2 separate regions of the Homo sapiens genome follow, and region 2 is linked to region 1. The links come from fine-mapping of genetic effects on plasma protein levels. A gene starts in region 1. The other region holds a variant in brackets. All regions are shown on one strand. Distances are between the middles of the regions.

The links. PIP is the chance, under the fine-mapping model, that this variant and not a neighbour inherited with it causes the effect. Protein levels are from the aptamer-based SomaScan assay of Sun 2018.
Region 2: its variant is fine-mapped to the plasma level of the SLAMF7 protein (Sun 2018, PIP 0.95).

The regions. Positions count from the first base shown.
Region 1 is chr1:160,735,822-160,744,214 of GRCh38, forward strand. SLAMF7 (SLAM family member 7) reads left to right here and starts at 3,426. Exons shown (of 7, transcript NM_021181.5): 1 at 3,426-3,535. The coding sequence starts at 3,481. LOC124904440 (a long non-coding RNA gene) reads right to left here and starts at 3,338. Exons shown (of 2, transcript XR_007066687.1): 1 at 3,262-3,338. RefSeq lists an enhancer at 6,508-6,587.
Region 2 is chr1:160,745,778-160,754,170 of GRCh38, forward strand. SLAMF7 (SLAM family member 7) reads left to right here. Exons shown (of 7, transcript NM_021181.5): 2 at 2,417-2,737; 3 at 4,044-4,316; 4 at 4,527-4,646; 5 at 5,568-5,671; 6 at 6,409-6,471; 7 at 7,329-8,393. The coding sequence ends at 7,400. Among named protein-coding and RNA genes, the nearest start is that of SLAMF7, 11 kb to the left of the region's middle. RefSeq lists a silencer at 5,986-6,045. The variant C/T (reference allele first, on the strand shown) is at 4,507.

The sequences.
Region 1 (8,393 bases):
CCAAACATCATGTGGAAATATGGGACACCACCCCCCCGCCAACAGCAAAGGCCAAGTGGAAAACCTATATTTAAACCCCCCACCCCACCCCTTGGCAGTAAGGAATCATCCCTCCCCACTCCCCACTCCCCACTGGGGTGGCATCAGAAGAGGCTAAGTAGGAAGACTGAACATGCACTCCCTCCCTGAAGCAATGAGGCACTCCTCCCAATTCTTGCTTTGGGTGGTGTCAGAAAAGGCCAAATGGAGGGTCTGGATTTTTACCACTGCTCAGCAGTAATGTGGTCCCCTACCTTATCATCACTGTGTCAAAAATCACTCATCATAACAAGAACCAGGACAATCTTGACTTGAATGAACAAAAGGCAATCAACAGACACCAAAACCAAGACAACACAGACGTTAGAATTATCTTACAAGGATTTTAAAGAAACCATAGTAAAAATGCTTCAACTAGCAGCTATGAACACATTTAAAACAAATAAACAAAAAAACTAGAAAGTCTTTAAAAAAAGAGTAGAAGATATAAAGAAGAACCAAAGGGAAATTTTAGAATTGAATAATACAATGACTGAAAGGTAAAACTAATTGAATGAGTTTAATGAGCTTAATAGCAAAATGGAGGCCAGGGCCAGTGGCTCATACTGGCAATCCCAGCACTTGGGGAGGCCAAGGTGGGCGGATCACCTGAGGTCAAGAGTACAAGACCAGCCTGGCCAACATGGCAAAACTCTGTCGCTACCAAAATATAAAAATTAGCCAGGTGTGGTGGCGGGTGCCAGTAATCCCAGCTACTTAGGAGGCTGAGGCAGGAGAATCGCTTGAGCCCAGGAGACAGAGGTTGCAGTGAGCTGAGATCGTGCACTCCAGCCTGGGCAACAGAGTGAGACTCTGTCTCAGAAAAAATAAAAAAATAAAAAATTGCAAAATGGAGATGAAAAAGGAAAGAATCAGTGTACTTGAAGATAAACAATAGAAAATACCCAATCTGAAAACAGAGTGAAAATAGGCCAAAAAAAAAAAAAAAAAAAAAAAAAAATGGAGCCTCAGAGCCCTGTGGGAGAAAAACAAAAGATTTATAACATTCATGTCATCAGAATTTTAGGAGAGAAGCGAGAATGTGAGGCTGAAAAAAAAGTATTCAAAAAATAATGAAATTTCCCCAAACTTAGCAAAAGGTAAAAACCTACAGATTCAAGAGACTCAATGAATCACAAATAAGAGAAACCCAAAGAAATTCACACCAAGACACATTATAATCACACTTCTGAAAACTAAAGACAAACAAAAAACTTTTAAAACAGCTAGAGAAAAATGACACATTACCTACAGGGAAAACAACTTAAATGACGGCTGATTTCTCACTGGAAACCATGGAGGGGAGGAGTGTCATGACACTTTTCAAGTGTTGAAAGAAAAAAAACTGTCAACCTAGAATTTTATACCCAGGAATGAGGGTTAAATCAAGACATTCTCAGGTGAAGGAAAACTAAGATAATTTGTTATCAGCAGGCTTATCATAAAAGAATTCCTAAAGAATATCTTGAAACAGAAAGAAATGATTAAAGAAGAAAACTTGAAGGCTGGGTGTGGTGGCTCATACCTGTAATCCCAGCACTTTGGGAGGCCAAAGTTGGTGGATCACCTGAGGTCAGGAGTTTGAGACTAGCCTGGCCAACATGGCGAAACCTGATCTCTACTAAAAGTACAAAAAGTAGGTGGGCATGGTGGCATGAGCCTGTAGTCCCAGCTACTCAGGAGGCTGAGGCAGGAGAATCGCTTGAACCCAGGAGGCGGAGATTGCAGTGAGCCAAGATCATGCCACTACACTCCAGCCTGTATGACAGAGCAAGACTTCGTCCAAAAAAAAATAAAAAGAAGGAAACTTGAAACATTAGAAATAAAGAAATAACAATGAAAAGAGTTAAAATATGGGTAAATGTAATGGATTGTCCTTCTCCTCTTGAGTGTTCTGAATTATGTTCAACAATTGAAGCAAAACTTATAATCTTACCGATATGGTTCTCAATGAATATAGACAATATATTTAAGACAAGTATAAAGATAGACTAATAAAGAAACCTAATATAGGTAAGTTTTCTATACCTAGTTCAACTGGTAAAATGTCAACACTGATAGGTAGATCAAAAGTTATGTATGTAAAATGCAATATGTACAGCAACCAGTAAAAAAACTCTTCAAAAAGATACATTATAGATAAATCAAAATGGAATTATAAAAAATATTCCAGTAACACACAGGATGGCCAGGAAAGTGAAACAGAGGAACAAAATAAACAAACAAAAGCCCAGAAGAACAAAGAGAAAATAATAACATGGCAAACTTAAGCTCTGATATATAAATAATTACATTATGTAAGTCAGTTAAATAGAATAGATAGCTCCAGAATATACCCACACAAGTATAAGTGCTGATTTTTGATAAAGATACAAAAGTAATTCAATGTAGGAAAGATCATCTTTTCCATCACATGGTAGTAGAACAATTGAACACCCACAGGCAGAAGAAAAAAAAACACGCACATTGTAATCATACTTCTGAAAACCAAAGGCAAACAAAAAACTTTTAAAACAGCTAGAGAAAAATGACACATTACCTATAGGGAAAACAATTTAAATGATGGCTGATTTCTCACTGGAAACCATGGAGGGGAGGAGTGTCATGACACTTTTCAAGTGTCGAAAGCAAAAAAAAACTGTCAACCATATTACCTGATATGGTTCTCAATGAATATAGACAATATATTTAGGTGAATCTCAACCTAAACTTCACACCTTACATTAAAACAGGATCATACATTTAAATGTAAAACATAAAACTATAAAACTTTCAGGAGAAAACCTTTGGACCCTAGTGTGGGTAGAAAAAAAACTGATAAGTTGAATTTCATCAAAATTAAAATTTTTGCTCTGCCAAAGACCCCGTTAAGAAGATGAAAAGACAGGCTACAGACCAAGAGAAAATATTTGTAAACCACATATCTGACAAATGACTCTTATACTTGGAACATATAAGGAATTGTCAAAGCTCAACAGTAAAAAAAATAAAGAATCTGATTATAAAATGGACAAAAGACATAAATAGACATTTCACCAAGGAGGATATGGATATATAGATGGCAAATAAGCACATGAAAAGATGTTCAACATTATTAGGCTTTAGGGAAATGCAAATTAAAGCCACAATGAGGTATCACTACAGCACCTATTAAAACAGCTAAAATATAAAATGGGAATATACCAAATGCTGATGAAGATGGGGAGCAAATAGATCTCTCATAGATTGCTGGTGGCAAGGTAAAATGCTCTATTCACTCTGAAAATAATTTAGCAATTACTCAATCTCACATGTCTGCGGCGTGACCCCTCCTGCTTCTTTAAATATCAGCTGGGGAAGAGGTCTGAGTAATACCTAAGAGGGAAGTGGCTTCATTTCAGTGGCTGACTTCCAGAGAGCAATATGGCTGGTTCCCCAACATGCCTCACCCTCATCTATATCCTTTGGCAGCTCACAGGTGAGTCCGGCCGGATTCTCTTCCACTCTCCTGTCTACCCCATCCTGAATAGTTCCAGGTTTCTTGTTCCACTCTGGGCCTCTGGCTCAACTCGGGAGGCTCTGTGTTCTCATCTAACATTTGCTTTTTATCAATCTCTGATCTCTGATTCTCAGGTCAGGAAGAGACTAGAGAGAGGGGGAAAAATGGCTCTGGGAACTGACTCCCCTGTTGACTGTCCCAGGGATGAAGGAGCTGAAAGAAGTGGTGCTGGGTATCAGAGACCATTTTTCTAATCCAGGTTCTGCCATGAGTTAGATAAGGAATGTTAAAGTTTTCCTGGGCCTCAGAAACTTTATCTTCTAGCCTTCTCTCCTTTTGAGGGCAACTTTAAGAACAAGATGATACTATACAGGTATGTATTTATTTACTTATAAATGTATTTATAAAATTGGTTATGCATAACAGTAATATAAATGGAAAGAATCACTTGAATTTTCTTTCCTTACTCAAGCAATGTAATCAGTCTCTACTTAGAGAACCAACTCATACCATAGGCACTTTATGTTTAATCCCATGGAGGACAGAGGACAGTTCTCCACCTGTCACTGGTATTCTAGTCTTTGAAGATTTTTCTATCCTAAGGGCTCTCAGAAAGGATCAGGAGCCCTATAAGTGAGAAATATCTCTTCTGTCATCAATCTCATGGAGTACTACCATGAGGTCCCCCTATAAGGACTTCACATAACTGCTTCATTATGTGTATCTGAGCCTGCCTGGAGTGATCTGCCCAAGACCACGCAGGCAGCTGGTGCCCCCAATATTTTCCCCTGCATCGCTAAGTGGTCAGCATCAGCAGACTCTTACCCACTTTGAATTCATCAGAAGTTTGTATTTTTGAGAGGTACCTGGGTCTAACCAGGTGGTTCTGGAATAGGCCCTCACTTTAAAAAAAAAAAACAAAAAAAAAACTCCCTGAACGGAAATGATGAGCAGAAATAGAACTTGAGGGAGATAAGGTGGAGGGGTTGGGGAAAATTATAGAGACTTTGAAAGCTACAGGTGTCCATCTGAAATCAGTCAGCGAAAGAGCACAAGTATGAAAAACTGCCATGCAGGTCCCCCTCTGCCCTCCTCCAGAGGCAGCCTGTGTAGTGTACCTCCTGAGGCTGAAAGGAGACAGAGATTGTCCTGGAACTTCCAGTGGGCAGGGCAGTGGAACAAATCCTGGCACTGGACAAGCGCATCCTTGGTTTGACTTAGTAGCTGTATTATTGTAGGCAAATTACTCTTCCCTTCTGAGCCTTGCTCTTCTCAGGTGTGTAACAGAGAATGAAATCTAAGTTGCAGAATTATTGTGACATTTTAAATGACATATCAAATGCAAAATAATTATTAAAATAATCACCATTTATTAAGTTACTACATCGCAGGTGTTTTTCATACCACCTCCTCATGAGTCTGTAAGACAGATATCATTATCCCTGTTTTACAGTTGAGGAAACTTAGGCTCAGCAGAGAGATCACGCTTCTTGGGCAAGATAACACAGCATTTATAAGGTAGCCAGAGATTGAGTTTAGAAAGCTAGAAAGCTAGTGCTCTTTTAATCATAACAAGCCGTCTATCACTGGACCTGGCACCAAAGAGATGCTCACTACATGTGCATTTGAGCTGAATCTTCCTCAGGGAGTACCAGTTGGGGTTTCTTCCCTCTCCAGGTACATAAATCTGAGGTAGAAACTGGAAAGGCCCGAGAAGAACGGGTAGCTCTGTTTCTGGGATATGGGTGTACCAACAGGGGGCCACCCTGGCTAAACTCAGAGGGTCCATGAAGCAGTTCTCATGGCCTCAGTATTCTCATCTGAAAAATGGGCACAGTAATCTGCCAATGATTTGATGATACAGTAGTGTCAAGGAGACAATCAATAAAAAGAAAACAAAAAAGTGGGTGAGGGGAATTGGGAGAGTGTTGAAAAGAACCAGAAGAAACAAGGAAGAGGGGGCAGGAGATGAGTGAGGAGCAGAGTGGTGAGCAACCTAAATGTGAATGTGGTCGGTTAGGGCTAGAGTGATGGGAAAGGTGTGTGGTGAAGCGGGAAACTTTCAAGCCTCTGTCTGTGGCTGCCTTGTGTGGCATTGAATTACACTGCTCTTTCGTGAGTACATTCGTTAAGGGGGACTTGAGTAAAGTGCAATAGATTTCAAACCACTTTGGGTTTTTTTTGCCTTTTTTTTTAAATCCATGGTTTCCTTTTATGGAATGAAATTTTACACAGAAAAAAACAAATAAATGACTCCAATGTATAGAGTTGAAGCCTAACGGAAGCAAGTCCCATAGCCTCCTATCCTACGCTCACCCCTTAAACCTCCTCCTGAGCTCCCAAGAAATACACTGAGGCACTGCCACAGCCTCCAAAGGTGGCGCCATGGGGCACAGTCTGTGAAATCCTGCCTTAGGAGCCTTGGCTCCTAATCCTGGCCTTCCACTGGTTTGGGAAACATCACCATAACCTTCTGAATATCAGCCTTCTTATCTGTGAAATGGGATTGGACTAAGTAATCCCTAAGACTCCTCCAAGCTCTGAGATGCTCTGGTTCATGGTTTTCATGAGGAGAGTGCCACAACACACTGCTACATTTGGACAGAGGCACCAAGTGTTCAGAGAAGTGCTTGGGGACGGGGTTGGCAAGCAGGAGGCAGGCTTTTCCACTCTCCCCTCCCCCAAAGTCTTCCTGCTTTATCACCATCCCTTGGTTCTGGCTGCACTGATAATGTATCTTCCTCATAATCGGGCTCCTTCCCTCCACTCAACTCTTGAGACTCTAGGGGACAGGACAGGGGAGGAGGTGACAACCAAGAGGAAAGGAAGGTGACAAAGGGCAGGACCTGTTATCCCTTCCTGTTACAGAGGAAATCTCACAGCTGACTCCTCCTGATGCAAAGACATCTGAGTCTTGGCTGGGGCAAAAGACAAAGGGTCTCCTGCCCCAGCTCCCTCCACCTTCAAAGGCAGGCGGGGGATGTAGTGGGGAATGCTCATGGCCGTCTTAACTTTCTGGCTTACTTTGCTGAGAAGCCATCCAAAGGTGTTTTGGGATATCTCTGTTTCTCATTTTTAGCTATCTGTGCAGAAATAAAACCAAAAGATGGGAAGCCTCCTCAAGGCCTGACTCTCATGCTCTCATTTCCTGACCTTGTCACCCGCATCCCACCTTCTCGTTAGGCTACTCTGTACTTCTCAAAATGCTTTCAAATCTGTATTCACACTTCATCTTCCCCAAATGCCTGGAAACTAAATGTTGTTATTTATTTCTCGTATGAGGGTTCAGAAACCAAAACTCGAAGTGGTAAGTGGTGAAGCAATATTGGAAACAACACAGACCACTGAGGCAGAGGAACTAACTCCTCTTCCCTCTTCCAACATTTCTTCATTGGGGCTTTAGGAAAGTCACCCCACTTCTCAAAACTCCAGTATCCCAATTTATAAAGCAGGGCTTAGGCTGTATCTCACGGGGCTGTTCTAAGGATCAGGAGAGAGGATGCCCACTGATCTGGCTTACAAACCACAGAGTGACACCAGGTGTTTGCTGCTGGAGTTATGACTACGGAGGCGGCAGAATGGACCCAGAATGGACCCTGACTCCCAGTTAGGCCAGAGCCCTTTCTCCCTCTGCCACATGCTGGAGGAGGAGAAGCGACCTCTACCCCTCTCTGGGCAGGACTTGGTGACCCCATCATTGGGTGATCTGGCCTCTAATCCTGTGGACCAATCATTGGCTAATCCACAGCAAAATGATATATGCAGCGACCACCAAGGGAGGATATTTCTTTCTGGAGAATTTAAAGTGTCAATGAAGTGAAATTAGTGGTAAATTTTCAGGGGATGTGTGAGAGGAAGAGTTGGAGGCTTCCTCAGGGAAGAGCTTTGAATTAGATACAGGGTTTGAATAAGATTTACATGAACAGAGAGGAGGATAAAGCACAAACAAGAGTGTGAGGTAGAAAGTGAGCTGAGGATCAGGGGAGGGAGGAGGCCGGGATGTTTGTGTGGTGGCCACATGTGAGTGGCAGTCCCAGCTGCATATCTTTCCACAGCAATACATTGTCATCCTGGCCTTACGCAGTCAACCCATGTCATGTGACACCCCTGAACTAATTACTGTACATGAGAAGGGCTACCACCTGAACTGGGTAGCCCAAACCATTTGGCTTGTACGGAATGAGGAAGGGGTAAAATGGATGTAAAAGAGGCAGGTTACAACCTTCACTGCACTGACTCAGGTAGAAGGTTGGCACCTGAGGAGAGTGGATGAATATCATGGGACCCAATCCTCTCGAGTCTTGTGGGTAGAGGTTGGTAGCCACTCTGTCTCCAGGGTCTCACTCTGTCATCCAGGGTGGAGTGCAGTGGCACGATCACGGCTCACTGCAGCCTCCACCTTCTGGGTTCAAGGAATCCTCCCACCTCAGCCTCTCGAGTATCTGGGACCACAGGTGAATGCCACCACGCCCAACTAATTTTTTCATTTTTTGTAAAGACAAGGTCTGGCTATGTTGCCCAGCCTGGTCTCAAACTCCTGACCTCAAGTGATCCTCCTGCTTCAGCCTCCCAAAGTGCTGGGATTACAGGCATAAGCCACCAATTCCAGCATCTTCCCTTTCCATAACACATGTAGTTATTTATTTAATGACTATCTACCAACTCCGTAAGTGCCAGAATTATGACTGTCTTGCTCCCCAGTTATACCCTCAGCTCCTAAACAATGAGAACTAAATAAATTCTTGTTAAAAGAAGGAATGACTGAATCTGACAAGTGTGACCTGCTTAGATATGGTAAAACTCTATAGGGTCACACACTGCAGGTGCAAAACCATCA
Region 2 (8,393 bases), 10 kb after region 1:
ATCCTTGTGTAAAAGGGTCAAAATGCCTAATTTGCAGGATTGCTTTGAGTGTTAGGCATACTCTTTACAATAAACGTTTGGTGCAGAATAAACATTTAATACATGACAACTCTTATAATTTGGAAACCCTTGCCAAGATATTTGATTTTAACAGGGACCAAAGAAATAAATCTCTAATGAAGCAATTTTTGATATCTGGATATGTCTGTATAGGAATTTGTCCTTTTACTAGAAAAGGCATGAGTTACATCAGTACTGGAGTAGAAGAAAAGATTGTGTCTAAGAGAGCAGGCTGTGAAATGAAACAGAGCCTGGATGCTTGGTCAGTCTCACAGGGCCAATTACACACAGGAGACACTGTACATAAGGCCCACGATAGTTTTAATTTTAATTTCTTTTAAAATCAGAAGAGAAATGAATATAGCAATAACAATAACAATGAATATATAATGAATCCAGCCCGGATCACATTCATTTTATACCAACACAGTCATGAAATATGATTTTTAATATTTCTTATGGAAGAAGGACCAACAAGGTCAAAAGTACACAGGAACCACAAAAGTCACCATGTAGCCTTGCAGTAGCATCATTAGAACTGTCAGGATCCTATAGCTTGGCTGTTTTGTTGGCTTTGCTTCTTTCATTTGTGCTTTTCATGACTGAATTAATAAAAATTCCATTTAAAAATTTCACCCTGACACTTTATGTTAAGAGGCAGAAGGGGAAATAACTTTGGGTTTTGTACTTTTAAGGAGAACACCTTTGTTGACAGCTGATGTGAGACCTCAGTTCTTGTCTACTTAGTTTAAAAGAATTTATATGAGAGATACACAGCAAAGGAAATACAGCATAGGGTAATTGATTGCAAAAGAATAAGAATATTTTGACAGTTAAGTGCAGAAAAGACAGTACATTCTGAGAGAAGGAAAATTCAGGGTGGGCTGCCCATAAGGATGAGACAGCAAAGACTGGCACTGGGGAGACCCCCTTTATGGGAGTCTTACATGATTATTCATAAGAGGGTGGGAAGAGGTGTTACTAGTAACCATGTTCTTGGTGGTCCTCTGGGTGGACGTGCACAGTAGCTATACATGCTTCTTCATAAATCTCGTGTCTCATTAGCATCTTAAATCTCCACCCATGGGTGTGTTTTTTACTATTATAATGAGCAAAGGGTCAGTTTGAGAACAAGTAAAATCAAAATCCGCATGCTCTCTACAGCGGAAAGTCCTCACTGAAGATAGCTTTGCTTAAATGAGCTCAATTACAATGTGAATGCTGAGGCTTATTGTATTGACTGTAGGGTCACCAGAGTTACTGCCTCCTGAGAACACTGTTACTTCCTTGACTACCTAACCTGCCTCACCTTTAAGGATTTAGTCTTAGTTTTTGTATTTCTATCAGCCTTGAATAAGTTCTTATCATTTCTACTATTTAGTTTTCTCATCTATAAAATATGCCCTTCAAGGTCTCGACCCTGTGGGTTTTGGTGTGTACTCTGCCTCTTACTAGGTGGCTTGAGTAAGTCATTTACCCCCACTGTGCCTCACATTCCTGATCCGTAAGATAGGGATATAAAGAATGTTTCTTCAAAAAGTTGTTTTAAGAGTTAAACAAGGCTGGGTGTGGTGGCTCATGCCTGCAATCCAGCACTTTGGGAGGCAGAGGCGGGCAGATCACTTGAGGTCAGGAGTTCAAGATCAGCCTGGCCAACATGGTGAAAACCCCACCTCTACTAAAAACACAAAAATTAGCTAGGTAAGATGGCACACACCTGGACTCCCAGCTACTCAGGAGGCTGAAGAAAGACAATCACTCTGAGGCAAGACAATCACTTGAACCCAGGACGTGGAGGTTGTAGTGAGCTGAGATCGTGCCACTGCAATCCCGCCTGGGCAACAGAGTGAGACTCTGTCTCAAAAACAAAAGTGTTAATCAAGATTATAATTTATGCTTTTAAACTGCTAGTCCCAAACTAAATTCTCTCACTGCTCTGTGTTATTCCCAGAGTCTGTCTCTCAAGTTTAATAGGTAAGAATAAGATGACTTACTCCCCACATCTGTTTACTGGTAATGCTCAGCTGGCCACTTCTGGAAGTTTCTTCAGCAGACATTCTTAACTGTTTTTCACCTACAACCACATAATCAGTGATGATTTTTTATAAGTCATACTCTCTGGGAGTGAACTAAGATTGTTGTGATACATAAATTTCTAATATAATGCTTCCATGTGAGCACTTACATAATAGGGTAACATGTGAGGGACCTCTATATGAGGTTCCAAAGGCTTTTCCAGGAGGTTGTTGTGTTGGACTGAGTGGGTTTCTCAGATCTCTCCAGGACCCAAAGGGGGTGAGTAATTGGTGACAAGGACAGGGAATCAGGCTTATTTTATGGTTCTCTGTGTTTATAGGGTCAGCAGCCTCTGGACCCGTGAAAGAGCTGGTCGGTTCCGTTGGTGGGGCCGTGACTTTCCCCCTGAAGTCCAAAGTAAAGCAAGTTGACTCTATTGTCTGGACCTTCAACACAACCCCTCTTGTCACCATACAGCCAGAAGGGGGCACTATCATAGTGACCCAAAATCGTAATAGGGAGAGAGTAGACTTCCCAGATGGAGGCTACTCCCTGAAGCTCAGCAAACTGAAGAAGAATGACTCAGGGATCTACTATGTGGGGATATACAGCTCATCACTCCAGCAGCCCTCCACCCAGGAGTACGTGCTGCATGTCTACGGTGAGCAAAATCAGTTCCAATGGTGGATGGCTGCCTTGGTGAGGTGGTGAGCTCCTTGACATGAGAGATGTTTAAGCAGAGGCTGAATAAACACTTGGCAAGAATGTGGGAGAGGGGACTTCTGCATGAATGAAATAGATGTAGCTGACCCCTGAGGTCCCTGCCTACTCAGAGATGTTGTAAGAAGCAGCGTGGTGCAGTGGATGGCTGATATGTGCAGTGGCCATCGCATAGATCAAGGTCAAATGCTGGCTTCTTTATTTAGTCACATGACCTTAGCCGAGTTATTTAATTTCTTCAAGTCTTAGTTTCCATATCTGTAGTGGGGAGGAAAGAAATGCCTACCTTAGGAAGATTTTTGGGCAAAATATCGATCACATCTCTTTCTCTACAGATTACAACCAATTGATAAATAGATGCAAGAAGGAGGGGATTAAAATATCAGCATATTTCTGGTAAATCTAGACAGGAGAAATGCTTCCTTTCAATTCTAGACCTTGGCACTCATCCAGGGAAGTTAAAATTATGAAACAATGACTCAAACTTCTTCAAGAAGAATAGCTGCTTCACTCACTGAGCCACAGTATCAGGAACCTTAGGGGATGGGCCTCCAGACTTGCTTGTAGGAGGTAGGCACTGCACCTGATCCAGGTGTGTCTTCCATATAGACATGGTTGAAGGGAACAGAAGATATGTATTCTGCAGGCTAACTAGTCAGGGGAGGAAGAAAAAGGGCAAAACACATTTTAACTGCAACCTTTAACGTCTCAAACCCATGAGTAGAGAAAGGTAAATGATGAATGTCAGACTCTTACCATCTCACCAATGAACCAACTACTCATTCTCTGAGGCAGGGGAGTGAGCACAGAGTAGAGAAGGGGGCCAGAAGGGCTACTCCAACACAATTTTCTCCTAGAGAGTAAAGTGAACTCTCATAGAGAGTAAAGGGAAGCCTGAGGACAGAGACTAGGGAACCTCTAGAACAGATAATATTAGCGGACATCTAACATGCGTTATCACAGTGCTTGCCATGTGGCTATGCTTAGTAAATGACAGTTATATTCTTATTGCATTATTATTTCTATTATTTCTATTGTTGTTATTGTTATTATTATTATATAGCTATGGTAAAGCAGACCTAGGTAGTTCTCTTTTCCAGATACGAATGAGGATTCTGCTCTGAATTACTGCTTTCTCTCCAGTCTGGAGCTCCCAGGGAGATTCAGGTCCAAGGTATCCAAGGATAATTCAGAGAATGGAGAGCTATAGGCAGAGTTTCCACCTCTGGTTTTCCTTCCTCTCACAGAGCACCTGTCAAAGCCTAAAGTCACCATGGGTCTGCAGAGCAATAAGAATGGCACCTGTGTGACCAATCTGACATGCTGCATGGAACATGGGGAAGAGGATGTGATTTATACCTGGAAGGCCCTGGGGCAAGCAGCCAATGAGTCCCATAATGGGTCCATCCTCCCCATCTCCTGGAGATGGGGAGAAAGTGATATGACCTTCATCTGCGTTGCCAGGAACCCTGTCAGCAGAAACTTCTCAAGCCCCATCCTTGCCAGGAAGCTCTGTGAAGGTGACTGCCTCTCCCCTCTCCACAGGAGACTCTGCCCAGGTCCTACACCTTCTTCAGCTCCTAGCCCCCATGGGAACAGACACTGTATGGAAACTGGAGGCCGCTGGGTGGTCACCAGGCTGGGAGGAAGGTGGCAGGTGCTCCAAGACCTGGGTCGTTTTCCTGAGCTGACTTTTCTCCCTTCCCTGTG[C/T]CTCCACCCATTCTCTGAAGGTGCTGCTGATGACCCAGATTCCTCCATGGTCCTCCTGTGTCTCCTGTTGGTGCCCCTCCTGCTCAGTCTCTTTGTACTGGGGCTATTTCTTTGGTTTCTGAAGAGAGAGAGACAAGAAGGTAGAGCGTGTACTATTTTTGTCCTCACCCACATTCATGTTTTTCTCCTTCACTGATTCAACAAGCACATATAGAGCTGTGTGCCAGACTTGGCATGAGGTGTTGAAGATGCAGAGATGAAGAAGCCACAGTCTCTGCCCTCAAGAAGCATACAGTCAGCCTGTGCTCCTTAGTTCTGGAGTAGAGAAAGTGCTGGAGGTCTTTCCCAAGGACACGGTTCTCCCAGTTCCCTTTCCAGGGCTCACTTCTCTCCTTCTCCCAGAGGGACATCCTGATGTGGCTCTTCTGTTGATACAGGCCCCACACTGCTGACTCTGCTCCCCTGACCTGGGAGGTGATGGCCTCCAACTCTGAGGTCCCCACAGACCAGCATCCTCTAGTCAATCCTTCCTATCCCTGTCAGAGCCCACAAACCACCCACACCCTTTCCACAGGATCAACCCAAGACCTCGCTTTACTGCCCACTAGACACATGGCTCCTGGGGAAGCCTTTCCCTGTCTCTCTCCAGTTGCACCCCATCCTGTGTTCCTAAACCCTGCTGATTGGTCTTCTGGGCTCCCACTGTCCATGTGGGTGATGGGGAGGGACCTAACATCAGTTGGGTATGACTTGCAGACTTTGAAATCTCCCTTCCCTCCTGGAAGCCCCTCTGAAAGTGTCTTTGACTTTCTCTACTTCCCACTTTGACCACCTTGATGGAGAGATCAGGAAGTGAAATGTTGGGGGTGGCCAATTCATCCTGATTTGTTTAGATTTTCCCAGTTTTAACACTGAAAGTCCTCTATCCTGAAAACCCTTCCATTACAAGGAAACTCGGCTGGTTGGTCACCCTAAGTGGGTCATCCAGGAGAAATGGTGGGCCAGTGGAAGTGGTGAGTGGTTGGAGAGGTGGCTTTGATTCTCTCCCAACTTGCTTTTAGAGTACATTGAAGAGAAGAAGAGAGTGGACATTTGTCGGGAAACTCCTAACATATGCCCCCATTCTGGAGAGAACACAGAGTACGACACAATCCCTCACACTAATGTGAGTCCCTTCTCATCTTTCCTGAGAACTGATCCTGTCTCTGAGGCTCTCCTTGTGAGGTTTTTCCATGGGTTTGGACAACATGGGAATGAAGAGGGGAGTGAGGATATATAGACTTAAAACTCAATGCACCTGTGCCTCCTCCAAGTCTTCATGGATTCTCTTCTGTGCAGAAGAAGCTGGTGGTCTCTGGAGCACCTGGTTCTGACTCACAATGCTCATGCTGTGGTCTGTGAAATCACCTGCTCCCCTCCACAGTTCATAACGGCCACACAAAAGGCCAGATTCCTTTTGCATAAGGCAGTGGGTAGAAGAGTGTGACTTTGACAGGATGTTTGAATCATGGTATCAGAAGACTTCTCTAGAGATCTCTCTCTCTCTCTCTCTCTCTCTCTCTCTCTCTCTCTCTCTCTCTATATATATATATATATATATATATATATATATATATATACACACACATATATATATAATATTTTTGAAATTCATTTTAACACAGTACAGTTTAAAAATAATGTAATGGCTTCCTGAAAAAAGTTATCAAAATTTATTATAATAGCAGTCACCAACAAGAGAACTTCCTACCTCCCTTCCCTGTTCCAGAACCCTCCTTTTCCTCTCACATCTCCTCCCATCTCTGCTTTCCCCTCTCTGGATTCTGAATGTCTCTCTGGCCTTGTCTATGTGATTCAGGAGGTGGGTGATGATTTCTTTTGTTTGTTGTTTGTTTTTAAAAGAGAACAATCCTAAAGGAAGATCCAGCAAATACGGTTTACTCCACTGTGGAAATACCGAAAAAGGTAAGAAGCTTTAGAGCTTAACTTCATCTTAATGGTTCCATTTCTTTTCCTGCTTCATGTTTAGGTCAAAATTTCTTGGACCCAGGTATCTCATACTCTCTAGAATTAAAAAGTACCCTAGTAGTTCCCCATTCCCTTTGCTTAGGGTTATACAAGAACATGGGGGATGGAAGAGAATTGTGTTTTAGGAATCGAATTGGGTAATCTGGAACAAATAGAGTAGGACAGAGGTTCTAGATCGGAATAATAAAGAAAATCAAAAGCCTTCTGACTGAAGTTGCAGACAAGGAAAAAGACCATGGCTTAGATTGTGCATGGAATGAAGAGAGGAATAGCTGAGAGGAGAGTCCAGCTTTCTCCTGAGACACCAGGAAACTGCAGGAGGGAGAGATCTCTACTTTTCTCCCATGGTCCAGCTATGTTACATCTGCTTTGCACCCTCCCCTCAGTTAAACTACTAATGCAGTAGCTTTAAGGCTTATTCCTTCACAGAGTACGGTTGGCAGCAGTAATGGTATCTTTCTGTCTCCTTTTTCTTCCTCTCCCAAACAGATCCAAAAAGATAAGAATCATTAAAGCAGTTTGCTTAGTAATAGAAAAGGTTGGTTTAGTGAATTATTACAACTGAACAAGGAAAGTTCAGTTCATTAAGCATTCAGCAAGATAAATATGCGTTAAACTTACAGAATAGTTTCTCTAAGCTAGGGGTGATTAAAATCAAACAGTGGGAGCCAGCATGCCAGCCGATTTGGGTTGGGTAACCTTGGAAATAAAGTTTCCTGGATGTCAGGGTCTCCATGGACGATCCAGAGCCCTGCTCACCTCCCTCACTCTACTTTCTTTTTGTCTGTCTTCAGATGGAAAATCCCCACTCACTGCTCACGATGCCAGACACACCAAGGCTATTTGCCTATGAGAATGTTATCTAGACAGCAGTGCACTCCCCTAAGTCTCTGCTCAAAAAAAAAACAATTCTCGGCCCAAAGAAAACAATCAGAAGAATTCACTGATTTGACTAGAAACATCAAGGAAGAATGAAGAACGTTGACTTTTTTCCAGGATAAATTATCTCTGATGCTTCTTTAGATTTAAGAGTTCATAATTCCATCCACTGCTGAGAAATCTCCTCAAACCCAGAAGGTTTAATCACTTCATCCCAAAAATGGGATTGTGAATGTCAGCAAACCATAAAAAAAGTGCTTAGAAGTATTCCTATAAAAATGTAAATGCAAGGTCACACATATTAATGACAGCCTGTTGTATTAATGATGGCTCCAGGTCAGTGTCTGGAGTTTCATTCCATCCCAGGGCTTGGATGTCAGGATTATACCAAGAGTCTTGCTACCAGGAGGGCAAGAAGACCAAAACAGACAGACAAGTCCAGCAGAAGCAGATGCACCTGACAAAAATGGATGTATTAATTGGCTCTATAAACTATGTGCCCAGCACTATGCTGAGCTTACACTAATTGGTCAGACATGCTGTCTGCCCTCATGAAATTGGCTCCAAATGAATGAACTACTTTCATGAGCAGTTGTAGCAGGCCTGACCACAGATTCCCAGAGGGCCAGGTGTGGATCCACAGGACTTGAAGGTCAAAGTTCACAAAGATGAAGAATCAGGGTAGCTGACCATGTTTGGCAGATACTATAATGGAGACACAGAAGTGTGCATGGCCCAAGGACAAGGACCTCCAGCCAGGCTTCATTTATGCACTTGTGCTGCAAAAGAAAAGTCTAGGTTTTAAGGCTGTGCCAGAACCCATCCCAATAAAGAGACCGAGTCTGAAGTCACATTGTAAATCTAGTGTAGGAGACTTGGAGTCAGGCAGTGAGACTGGTGGGGCACGGGGGGCAGTGGGTACTTGTAAACCTTTAAAGATGGTTAATTCATTCAATAGATATTTATTAAGAACCTATGCG